Linked DNA regions of Homo sapiens: region 2 is linked to region 1. The links come from fine-mapping of genetic effects on gene expression. Tissue or cell type: whole blood. Region 1 holds a variant in brackets; the other region holds the start of a gene. All regions are shown on one strand. Distances are between the middles of the regions.

The links. PIP is the estimated chance that this variant, and not a neighbour inherited with it, causes the effect.
Region 2: KCTD20 starts here. The variant in region 1 is fine-mapped to the expression of KCTD20 in whole blood (TOPMed, PIP above 0.99).

What each region holds. Positions count from the first base shown.
Region 1 is chr6:36,557,124-36,563,170 of GRCh38, reverse strand. No RefSeq gene overlaps it. Among named protein-coding and RNA genes, the nearest start is that of STK38, 13 kb to the right of the region's middle. The variant G/C (reference allele first, on the strand shown) is at 3,686.
Region 2 is chr6:36,440,033-36,445,497 of GRCh38, reverse strand. KCTD20 (potassium channel tetramerization domain containing 20) reads right to left here and starts at 2,498. Exons shown (of 8, transcript NM_173562.5): 1 at 2,387-2,498. It overlaps PXT1 (peroxisomal testis enriched protein 1), which reads left to right and starts at 2,644. Exons shown (of 5, transcript NM_152990.4): 1 at 2,644-2,963. RefSeq lists enhancers at 1,381-1,440, 2,046-2,145, 3,630-4,177 and silencers at 2,306-2,595, 3,754-3,823.

The DNA.
Region 1 (6,047 bases):
CAATCTCGGCTCACTGCAATGTCTGCCTCTGGGGTTCAAGCAATTCTCCTGCCTCAGCCTCCTGAGTAGTTGGGATTACAGGCACCTGCCACCACACCTAGCTAATTTTTGTATTTGTAGTAGAGATGGGTTTTCACCATGTTGGCCAGGCTGTTGTCTAACTCCTGGCCTCATGATCTGCCCGCTTCAGCCTCCCAAAGTGCTGGGATTACAGGCATAAGCCACCATGCCTGGCCAAGACTTCCTGTTTCTAATTTCTGGCAAAATGATCCTTTCTCCTCCTGCTATACCTATTTGTCTACCTCTTAAGAACATGGGGCAGTTCTGGATTTGTCTGTTGTCTCAAAGCCCATTTTCCCTAGATTCTCAATATCCACAGTACATGCACTGTGTCATGATGCTATTTTAGAATATTAACTATGGGTTTCATCCCCAGGATTTTCTTTTCTCCACGGCTTTCCCCCAGTGAACTAAATTGTCTCAGCTTAGGACAACATGAACCCAAAGAGGAAGGAGACTTTTGTTGGTTTTTGAGCCATGATCTTGTGGGAAAGAGAAAGGACTCATGCACAAAGACAACATTTGAGGCTTGCAGGAATCTACCTCCAGATGAGATCAGGTCCTCGGACTGAGGGGAACGTGACTGGAGAATTCAGAAGCTTGTGGCTCCCAGGCCCTGTGCTGTGCCCCCGCAATAACTGCACCAGGGAATTAGGAATGGGGATGAGAGGAATTCCCTGAAAACTGTTTTGCGTGTTCAGTGGTTGTTAGGTTAAATCTTGTACAAGGAGGGTGTGTGGCCACTATCAGGCCACCTGGGGGATTGCTGCTTTAATAATTTACAATTATGACTTTGGACAATGTCTGGAAAAACACAGGGAAATTTGCATGCAAATAGTCCATTAACAAAGAAACAGGGAAAAAATGAAAATTTGTGAGAATGAGGGGGAACATTCAGATCACTTTAATCTAGTGTGTGTGAAGATTGTTCTCGTTCAGTACATTTCAGCTCAGCCAGTATAACAGATGATATGCAGGAGCAGAAAGCCTCCCTCCCCTATGTCTTGCCATCAGCGAAGTCCTTGGAAATTAAATACAACCCAGGGGAAAATCTGGGGGTATAGAATGACCCTAGCACATCTAATTGCAATCTGTGATAATTGCTGCTCTGGCAAAGCCCAGGAAACCACGCAAACCAGTCCAGGGGGACAGGGAAGGGCTCCCTGAGCAGAGACCTGAAGGGTGAGTTAGAGATAACTAGATGTTTGTGAAGGTAGAAAGAAAATCCAGTCCCTGGGCTGGCAATTACCTGGTGAGCCACTCAGAACCATTTTAAAAACATTGTCATGAGGAAGATGATGAGTAAACAGAGAACTTCAGGAAGGGACTGGTCCATGGTGGCAAATGCTGCAGAGAGGCCAAGCAAAATAAAGACCAAGAAGAGTCCATTGAAATACCATGGAGGACATTGGTGCTGACGTTGTCAAGTACAGCTGGAGCAAGTTGTGGGAAGAAAGCAAAAAAAATTTTTTTTTCCCAAGATGGAGTCTTGCTTTGTCACCCAGGCTGGAGTGCAGGGGTACAATCTCCGCTCACTACAACCTCCGCCTCCTGGGTTCGAGCAATTCACCTGGCTCAGCCTCCCGAGTAGCTGGGATTACAGGTGTGCACCACCATGCCCAGCTAATTTTTGTACTTTTAGTAGAGACAAGATTTCACCATGTTGGCCAGGCTGGTCTCGAACTCCTGACCTCGTGATCTGCCTCCCTTGGCCTCCCAAAGTGCTGGGATTACAGGTGTGAGCAACTGTGCCTGGCCAGAAGTCAAAATTGCAGGAGGTCGAGACACATGGAAGGTGTAGAAATAAGAGATGGTAAATGGAGAAAACTCTTCCCAGAAACTTGGCTGTGAAAGAAGTGGTGAATGGCAGTAGTGAAAGCTGGACTTGAGGTCGAAGGAAGAGGCTTTTCCGATAGGGAGTCTTTGCACACGTACAAACATCAGGAGGAAGCAGCCTGTCCAGAGGGAAGGTAAAAGACAGGATGGAGACTCCTAAAGAGCGAGGAAGTGACACAAGCCATAGACCAGGTAGGAGTGTGGCCTAAAAGGGAGGAGAAAAGAATGAGAGTGGATGCAGATGCCTGTAGACTTGGTGGCAGAAGAGGGAGCTGTCTACAGCCTCTACTTTCTCTGTGACATGGTAGGATCTGCTAACTGGGGAGGGGCATCAGGAGTGTGGATGGGTTGGAAGGGTTGGCAAAACCAAAGAACTGAAGAAGGCAGAAAGGATTTGAACTAGTCATTACAGTGGTTACAAATTCCAGGTGTATAAGAAAAATGTCATCTTCCTATACTTTTCCAGTGTTTCTATTTGAAGCTCTCATTCCTTTCGATAGTCAGTTTCATCTCAGTCAATTCATGAAGAGAGGACAGGTAGGCAGCTGGGTACATGGGTCTGGTAGCTCAGAAGAGGAGTATGGGCTGAAAATGTCAATTTGGGATTCATCAGAATAGTTTGTCTTCTTGAGTCTTGGGAAATATTGACTCAGCTCAGGGAGATGGAAGAGGCTGAAGAGCCAAACTTGGGAAAACCCCAACATTTAAAGGCCCTTGGAAGAAGAAGAATCTGTGAAGAGTCAGAAGGTAGGAGGAAAAGCAGGAGAGTGCCATGTCCCAGAACTAAGGGAAGTGAGTATTTTAAGTAAGTGGAAATAAAACGTCAACTAGGATTAGAATTATAAAATATCCACTGGGCCAGGTGTGGTGGCCCATGCCTGTAATCCCAGCACTTTGGGAGGCAGAAGTGGGAGGATTGCTTAAGGTCAAAATTTGAGACCAGCTTGGGCAACATAGTGAGACCCTGTCTTTACAAAAAATTAAAAAAAAAATTAACCAGGCACGGTGGTAGTGCCTGTAGTCCCAGCTACTCAGGAGGCTAAGGCAGGAAGATTACTTGATCCTCAGGAGGTCGAGGCTGCAGTGAGTGATGATAGTGCCACTGCTCTCCAGCATGGGTGACAGAGTGATACCTTGTCTCTAAAAAAGTAATAATAATAGGTCAGGAGCGATGGCTCATGCCTGTAATCCCAGCACTTTGGGAGGCCAAGGTGGGTAGATCACCTGAGGTCAGGAGTTCGAGACAAGCTTGGCCAACATGGTAAAATCCCATCTCTACTAAAAATACAAAAATTAGCCAGGTGTGGTGGCACACGGCTGTAATCCCAGCTACTCGGGAGGCTGAAGCAGAAGAATCGCTTGAACGTGGGAGACAGTGGTTGCAGTGAGCCAGCATCGTGCCACTGCACTCCAGCCTGGGCAACAGAGTGAGACTCTGTCTCAAATAAATAGACAAATAATAGTAATAGTAATTAATTAGTAAAATATCTGTTGGATATCCTGTATTCTTCTTCCTTTGGGTTGAGGCACAAAGAACAGCGAGAAGATATAGTCATGACAATAGTCATAATATCTACTATTTATTGAGTACGTAACTCCTGATTATGTCATTCAACTAGCCAATCAATCAACCACATATTAACTGAGAACACAGCATGTGCCAAACACTAACGACAGTGTTTCCTCTCATGGTGCTCATTAGAGCTTCTCAACTTTTTTCACGGTCACACATGAAAAATCATACCCTTTGTACATCCCCAGAGGTAAATGAATGATGAGGCTACTCAAG[G/C]CTGCCTGAGCCCCTTGGCTGCCCTGAGGGCTGGGAGATCAATATCTCATCATCCCCGGCCTCTGATCAAAATTCTTTCTTTCAATATCTATTCTGATATTGAATGTGACTGTGGAGAAGTTTTGAGGGCAGAGGTGAGGACCAGCATAGGGTAAAAGCTGCTAGTAGTCTTCAGTGAGTTAAGTAAGAACCTTGGAGAATGGGGCTGGTTTCAAAAGCTTGGAGCCGAAAAGAAAAACAGAAAAGCAGCATTAGATTGTTCCACTTTCAGTAATGAGGAGAGAAAGAGAGACGGAAGCTCATTCTAAAAATCAGGAAATGGAAAAAGTTACTCTAAAAATTAGGAAGATTAAACTGAGGATCTTTAACTAATCTGAGATTCAATCCTAAGGTTTCAGAGGTGAAAACACTTGTGAGTTTCTGTTGGCACATCTGTTTGTAGACACTGATGCCTGCTCATTGTGCACTGTGCACAGATGGAAGCACCCTGAGAGTATCTTGTTTCCTGCAATAGAGTGCAACTGAAAATAAGGCTGCAGGAATTAAATCAGATTGTCAATGGAATAGTTGAGTTCACTATGAAAAACAGCCCCATTTAGATAAAATTCATTTTGATCTATCTGTCAATGGAAAATTATGAAGCCCTTAAAAAAAAAAAGAAGGGGACTGGGCTCAGTGGCTCACACCTGTAATCCCAGCACTTTGGGAGGCCGAGGCAGGCGGATCACGAGGTCAGGAGTTCAAGACCAGCTTGGCCAACATGGTGAAACCCTGTCTCTGCTAAAACTACAAAAATTAGCTGAGCATTGGCCAGGCGCGGTGGCTCACGCCTGTAATCCCAGCACTTTGGGAGGCCAAGGCGGGCAGATTACGAGGTCAGGAGATCGAGACCATCCTAGATAACACGGTGAAACCCTGTCTCTACTAAAAATCCAAAAAATTAGCCGGGCGTGGTGGCAGGTGCCTGTAGTCCCAGCTACTCGGGAGGCTGAGACAGGAGAACTGCTTGAACTGGGACCCAGGAGGCGGAGGTTGCAGTGAGCCAAGATCACGCCACTGCACTAGGCTACAGAGCAAGACTCCGCCTCAAAAAAAAAAAAAAAAAAGGACTGAGGCATTTCTATTTCTCCTGATGATCTGGAAGGCTTTCCAAAGTATATTTTTCAGCAAAGGATAATAAGGTGCAAAACTGTATGTTTAGAGTGTTATTTAAAAAAATATATATGTACAGTTATGTTTGCATATGCAAAGAATATGGAAGGATGCAGAAGAAACTGGTAAGACGTGACCCATGGGGAAGGGAGCTCAGTGGCTGGGGATCAAGGTGGAAGGTTTTCATTGTATACTCTTTTGAATTTTGTACCAGGTATTATTTATTTAGTGAAAAAATATATGCAAATACAGGAAAAAAAACTTTTGATGAATCATTTTTGCAAGGTTCATTTTTAACGCAAACAGACACTCCCTAATTTGCTTTGGAAATGTTGACATTTGTGTACTGGATTTTCTTAAAGCATGAAATACCAATGTCTGCAAACCACACCCCGGGTGCTTAAATTTGAGGTCACTGACAAAACCAGCCATACAAGTGTGACTTTCCAAAAAGCTAAACATTGTTGAGAGAAGCAGAGTGAGTGTCAGGGGCTTGATGTATCCCCAGCATCTGAGAATCTCAGAGAGAAGGGACTGTGGAGAGTTGGTGCAACCTCCTTTTTTTTTTTTTTCGAAATGGAGTCTCCCTCTGTCACCCAGCCTGGAGTGCAGTGGCGCGATCTCGGCTCACTGCAAGCTCCGCCTCCTGGGTTCAAGTGATACTCCTGCCTCAGCCTCCTGAGTAGCTGGGATTACAGGCACATGCCACCATGCCCGGCTAATTTTTTGTATTTTTAGTAGAGACGGGGTTTCACCGTGTTACCCAGGATGGTCTTGATCTCCTGACCTCGTGATCCGCCCGCCTTGGCCTCCTAAAGTGCTGGGATTATAGGCGTGGGCCACAGCTCAAGGCCTGCAATCTCCTTTCTTCAGAAATCAGGAAATGAGGCTCCAAAGGGGAAGAGACTTGCCTAATAAAAAGATTGTGCCATTTTGTGTAAAAAAAATGAGAAACATAAGTCTCTGTATCTATATTTGCTTCCAATTGCATGAAGAACTCCAGAAGGATACACAAAAACAAATGGGAAACTGTACAGAGAGGGAAGGGGAACAATGAAAGGATGCGAGACAGAGGTAGAAATGAGATTTTCACTTTTAATCTTTTATAATCCTTGATCTATTCTTTAAAAGAATATGAAAACATTAAAAAGAGAGATGGACCATGACATCTCTATGACCCACAGTGCAGTTTTCAAGGATGACATCATAA
Region 2 (5,465 bases), 120 kb after region 1:
GCTCAGGGCTACAGAAGGAAAGACATGACATTTTATGAATCAACAGAAAAAGATTCAATAAGATAAATCAGACACCAAAGAGAGGAAAAAAGTCACAGAAACACATGGCCTAATTCTAACCTCATCTCTACACATCTATTTGAAGGGGGAATAATAAATATAAAAATGCGTGTATTATTGTCCTTACCAAAGTTACTAGATGTCTCTGTTACAGATTTTTTTTTTTTTTTTTTTTTGAGACGGAGTCTCACTCTGTTGCCCAGGCTGGAGTACAATGGCGCGATCTCGGCTCACTGCAACCTCTGCCTCCCGGATTCAAGTGATTCTCCGGCCTCAGCCTCCCGTGTAGCTGGGATTACAGGTGCCCACCACCATGCCTGGCTTATTTTTGTATTTTTAGTAGAGACAGGGTTTCACCAGGTTGGCCAGGCTGGTCTGAAACTCCTGACCTCAGGTGATCCATCTGCCTCGGCTTCCCAAATTGCTGGGATTACAGGCATGAGCCACCACGCCCGGCTTCTGTTACAGAATTTAAGACTGACCTAACTACTACAGTTAGGCCTAATACAATGTATTTCTTAACTTCTTAAGGAAAACGAGATTATTGGAATAGTACGTGTATTTCTGGCATAACAGGAAGGAACAAATTGTGGATGAATAAAGAGAACCTTTTGGCAGCAGTGGAGTTTATCCAGCCCTCATTTCTGCCTCAAAGGAGGAATGCAACTCTGTGCCAGAAATATGTGTCTATATTGCAATGCTGTTGATAAAACAGCCTACTACAGTGCTTTGAGGAAAATAGGCATTACGCAGGTATTTGATGACTAAATTAACGTCCAGCTGAACTGAAAGCCCTCATAATGCTACTAGTACTGCTACATACCAGATAATATGACAGTCAAGGCCATGGGAATTATATGGCATTGGCTGCCCTGGTTCCATGGGGAGACTTGAGTGAGCTGGGCGGAGGAGATTTGGCCTAATGGCATTAAGCTCTGATGATACTAGAAGCAGCCCTCAGAAGGAAAAGATTAATGGGCTATCTCTAAACCATCAGAGCAATATCGGAATATGCATGAAAATCATTTCCTACCCCGTGTCAGGGTCAAAAAAAGCACTATCTTTTCTCATATTGGCTTCTGGAGAGTCAGGGCTTCTTGTCCTACGACTGGTTTAGGGCAGGGGAGGAAAACATCGACAAAGGGTTAAGGCTGTTGGGCAGTTTTTAAAATTCCCAGCCCAGCCTAAAGGTGGTGTCTGTCAACGTGTGGTCGGTCCCTGGATCATCAGTAACAGACCAAGAGTGCAGGTGCTTGCTTAAATCCCAGACTCAGGGACCCATCACAAATCTCTAGAATCAAATTTATGGAAGAGGTGCTAGGGTACTGCAACCTTATTACTAAGGAACAATCTTCTGTTTCAGAACTATGGCCTAGGAATTGGGGTTTCAGGTGGGGGCCTTGAGCGGAAGTCCTCTGACTCTGGATTCATCACATCCGACAGACACTACTACAACACTTTGTTTTGAAGACCATTAAAAAACTACCTCAACTTCTCGCACAGCGAACAGGAACAAAACTAAGGACTCTGGGACATATTTTCATAAGCTGGTTAAACAGTTCCTTCACAGCCTTGTTTATCATGTTAGTTTGTTCACTAGATTCTTATTTAAAAATAAATCTCTTCAACTGAGGAATTTTCAGAAAGAATCACAAACTCCAAAATAGAAGAGTTTTCTCATAGTGCAGAACTGGGCTTCTAAACCTGAAGACACTGCTATAAAAAGCAAAGTTTTATTTAAAAGAAAATTGCTGGTTAAGGCTTTCCCCAGCTCTTTTGCACTCAGAGCCACGGATGAAAGCTGGCAATTTGCGGGTGGCAGGGAAGGAAGACGCGGAAACAGGGCTGAAAAGACCGAGCAAAATGCGCTCGGCTCCAGAGTTCAGGAGGAAGTCCCCACCAACTACCTAATTTTTAATGGAGCCAATTAATTGCCAGAAAAACCGCGTCTGCAAATGTTTTGCCAGTCAACACTCCAGGTTCTCGCCATTCCTCTCCGGCGGGATGAACCACCCGAGGCCTGCAAAAAGCAGTCAAGCAGTCAAGTTACACTTCAGCTGTGCCCACCACCTGGGCGCAGCGTCGCCTCCCTCCCCAGGATCACCAGACTCTGCCCTCCGCGCGGAAACAGGAGCCCATCAAGCCGCTGCCCACAGGTTCCTCGCGCCCAGCTCAGCCCCGCGGCCTTTCGACTCGGGGGTCCGAACCGCCGCCGCGTCCGGAGGAGACGCCCCCTCGGCCACAAAGGGAAGACTCGGGCCACGCCCGCCGCCACACTCTCCCTGCCCGGTCTTCGCGCCCGAAACCGTACCGCGCCGCCACTTACTCGTCGCTCCCCGCCGCGCTGTCCCGCTCGGGGCTGGAATCCGCCCGGGAGGCGCGCGCAGGCCGCGCAGCCAGAAGCCGCAGCCGGGACCGGCTGTGCCGCAGCGGCGCGCGCCCCCCGCCCCGGACCGCGCGGCCACGCGGCTGAGTCACCCAGCGCTTCACGTTAAGAGTCCCCTCCGCGCGTGGCACGCCGGGAAGGCCGTGTCTGGGGACCCCGTCCGGGGCCGCACCGTAAATGGGTGTCGCCTTTCCTCCAGTCCACTCTGCACCCAACCTCAGCGGGCGCACTTTTCTGAGTTGCGCATACCCTCTCAATTATTAAAGGTTGCAGACGGAAAAGTTAGTAGTTTTCGGAATTGTAGAATACGCTCGTGCAGCGCCAGGACGGCTAATGCTTACCCGAAAATGTGGAACCCTGATCTCCCCATGCGTGGAGCGAGGTTGGAGGTAGCGTAGTAAGAATACTGGAGTTGCTTAAACGCATTTGCTCGAAAGTCACTACCCTGGATATACATTCTGGCCAAAAGAAAGGGGGAAAAACTCCACATTTTTCTCAAATACTGAGTTTCATGAAGGTACCTGCTATTACAAAGGTGTATTACAAATTTTAAATCAACCGGAAGCAAGTTACTGGGAAAACTGTGTTATGAGTAAAAGATTTCAGCATTCAAAAAACATCTATATATGGTCCATGTCCTATGAACCAAATGCTGGAAAACCCAAAAGGAAGTTCTTATTGTCACGGTTTCTAGTGGCTTTTGTACTTTTAAAAATTACACTAGGCCGGGCTTGGTGGCTCACGCCTGTAATCCTTGCACTTTGGGAGGCCGAGGCGGGCAGATCACCTGAGGTTGGGCATTCCAGACCAGCCTGGCCAACATGATGAAACCCTGTCTCTGCTAAAAATACAAAAATTAGCCGGGCGTGGTGGTGGGCGCCTATAACCCTAGCTGTTTGGGAGGCTGAGGCAGGAGAATCACTTGAACCCAGGAGGCAACTGGGAGGTTGCAGTGAAGTTCCCTCTCAAATATATATATATATGTCTATATATACTAATTAAATATACTGATTATGCAAACTATTTGTAAATTGTTGAAAGCTCTATAAACTAATAATAGCACAAATTTTAAAATTCGAAGTCGATTCTCCTTTTCCTTACAAGAGACTCTCTGAAAACTAATTTGGAATTGGATTAGAATTGGTGTTGAAGTGGAAGGAATGTAAGAAAATAGTTTGACTCAGTAGGTTTCACACGGTTAACGGATACTTGTATAGCAAATTTGTTTTATCAGGGTCAAAAAATTTAATTTTCAAAACTGAAGACATAAATTTTTTCATTATAATTTGGTCTTAGAGGCCTAGAGGGTCATTTTCCATTTCTATTCTCCCTCGTTTATGACTATAAAGTATGCAGGACTGTATTGTGTTTATCTCAACATGGACTAGGCTGTGAGGCTGCACTCGTCATCTGTAAGTCAGTCTCACGTCCCCATGGTGACTCAGCTTCCCTGCTGCTTGCGTCAGTGGCTCTGCCCTCCCAGCACTTCCGGGCTGGCAGAAGAGCTAGATTGGAGAATCCTGTAAGGGCTCTCCTTTGCCTCTGCCAGAAGTGAGTGGCCTTTTCACTTCTGCTGACGTTTCACTGTCCTGAACTAGTCACCAGGCTCAACCTGACTGACTCTAAGAAGGCTGTGAGATATAAATTCCTGTATGCCTGGAGAAAAGGAATATGAAAAAAGATTTAGTAAACACATGGCTATAAACCAATTTGAGTGAGTTATAGGCTCCAAACTTTACAACAGTAGCAGCATAGAGGATTGTTCAAACTAATGCCTTTATTTCCATTTTTATAAAGTACAGTGTTACAGCCTTTGAGTCAAAGAAAAATAAAAAACCTTCTGATATTCCTGCAAAACAGTTCTTGAAACAAATTCTTCCTTTCTGGAAAGATTCCTTCCCGTAGATTTGTATATTGTCTTTCTTTTTTTTTTTTTTTTTCTTTTTGTGGAGAATGGAGTTCTTATTCTGTTGCCCAGGCAGGTCTTGAACTCCTAGGCTCAAGCTATCCTCCTGCTTCTGCCTCCCTAAGTTTGGGGATTACAGGCATGAGCCACTGCACTGGCTGCAGATTTGTGGTATACAAAAATCTGGCCTGAAGTTTGGAGAATCAGGCTAACTACCGAGTCTTATTATTATTTTTTAAACACTTTCATTTTGGAAATTAAAGCATACAGAAAGATATAATAAACACCCGTTATCCATCATCCAAAATAAATAAGTGATAACATGACTTTTAATAGTTAATGGTTCAACTTTTGGCTAAAATTTCATATAATGAACAGCATATCAGACTGGGTACCTTTTTTGGGCAGACATCAAGGAGACGGGATATGAGAAATGTATATTCACAGAAAGCATAGGTGTTTGCTGGTTTTTATCATTTTATTTCTAATTTAATGTAGGTATCTCAAGACCCCGAGTCTCTGATATTTATTTGTATCTGAAACCAAAACCTTCTTCTTTTTTTTTTTTTGAGACAGTGTCTCCCTTTGTTGCTCAGGCTGGGTGATCACCACTCACTGCAGCCTCGATCTTCTGGACTTAATCCCCCTCCCAGGTTCACGCCATTCTCCTGCCTCAGCCTCTCGAGTAGCTGGGACTACAGGCGCCCGCCACTGTGCCCGGCTAATTTTTTGTATTTTTAGTAGAGATGGGGTTTCACCATGTTAGCCAAGATGGTCTCGATCTCCTGACCTCGTGATCCACCCGCCTCGGCATCCCAAAGTGCTGGGATTACAGGCGCAAGCCACCACGCCCGGTCAAGGTTGACTCTTAAGAATAAAAATATTTTTTAAATAATAGCTATTGTAAATTGTCATACAAAAAGCTAATCCTCATTTCTACCGACTAAGCTTATGTAGTAAATATAAAAACAAACCAAAAATCCCTAGATTTTGAACTGTCTCTCTCGAATAATTAAATTTGCTAAATGTTCGTTTTCTTTTGTTTTCTGAGACAGAGTCTTGCCCTGTCACTCAGGCTGGAGTGCAGTGGTGGGATCATGGCTCACTGCAACC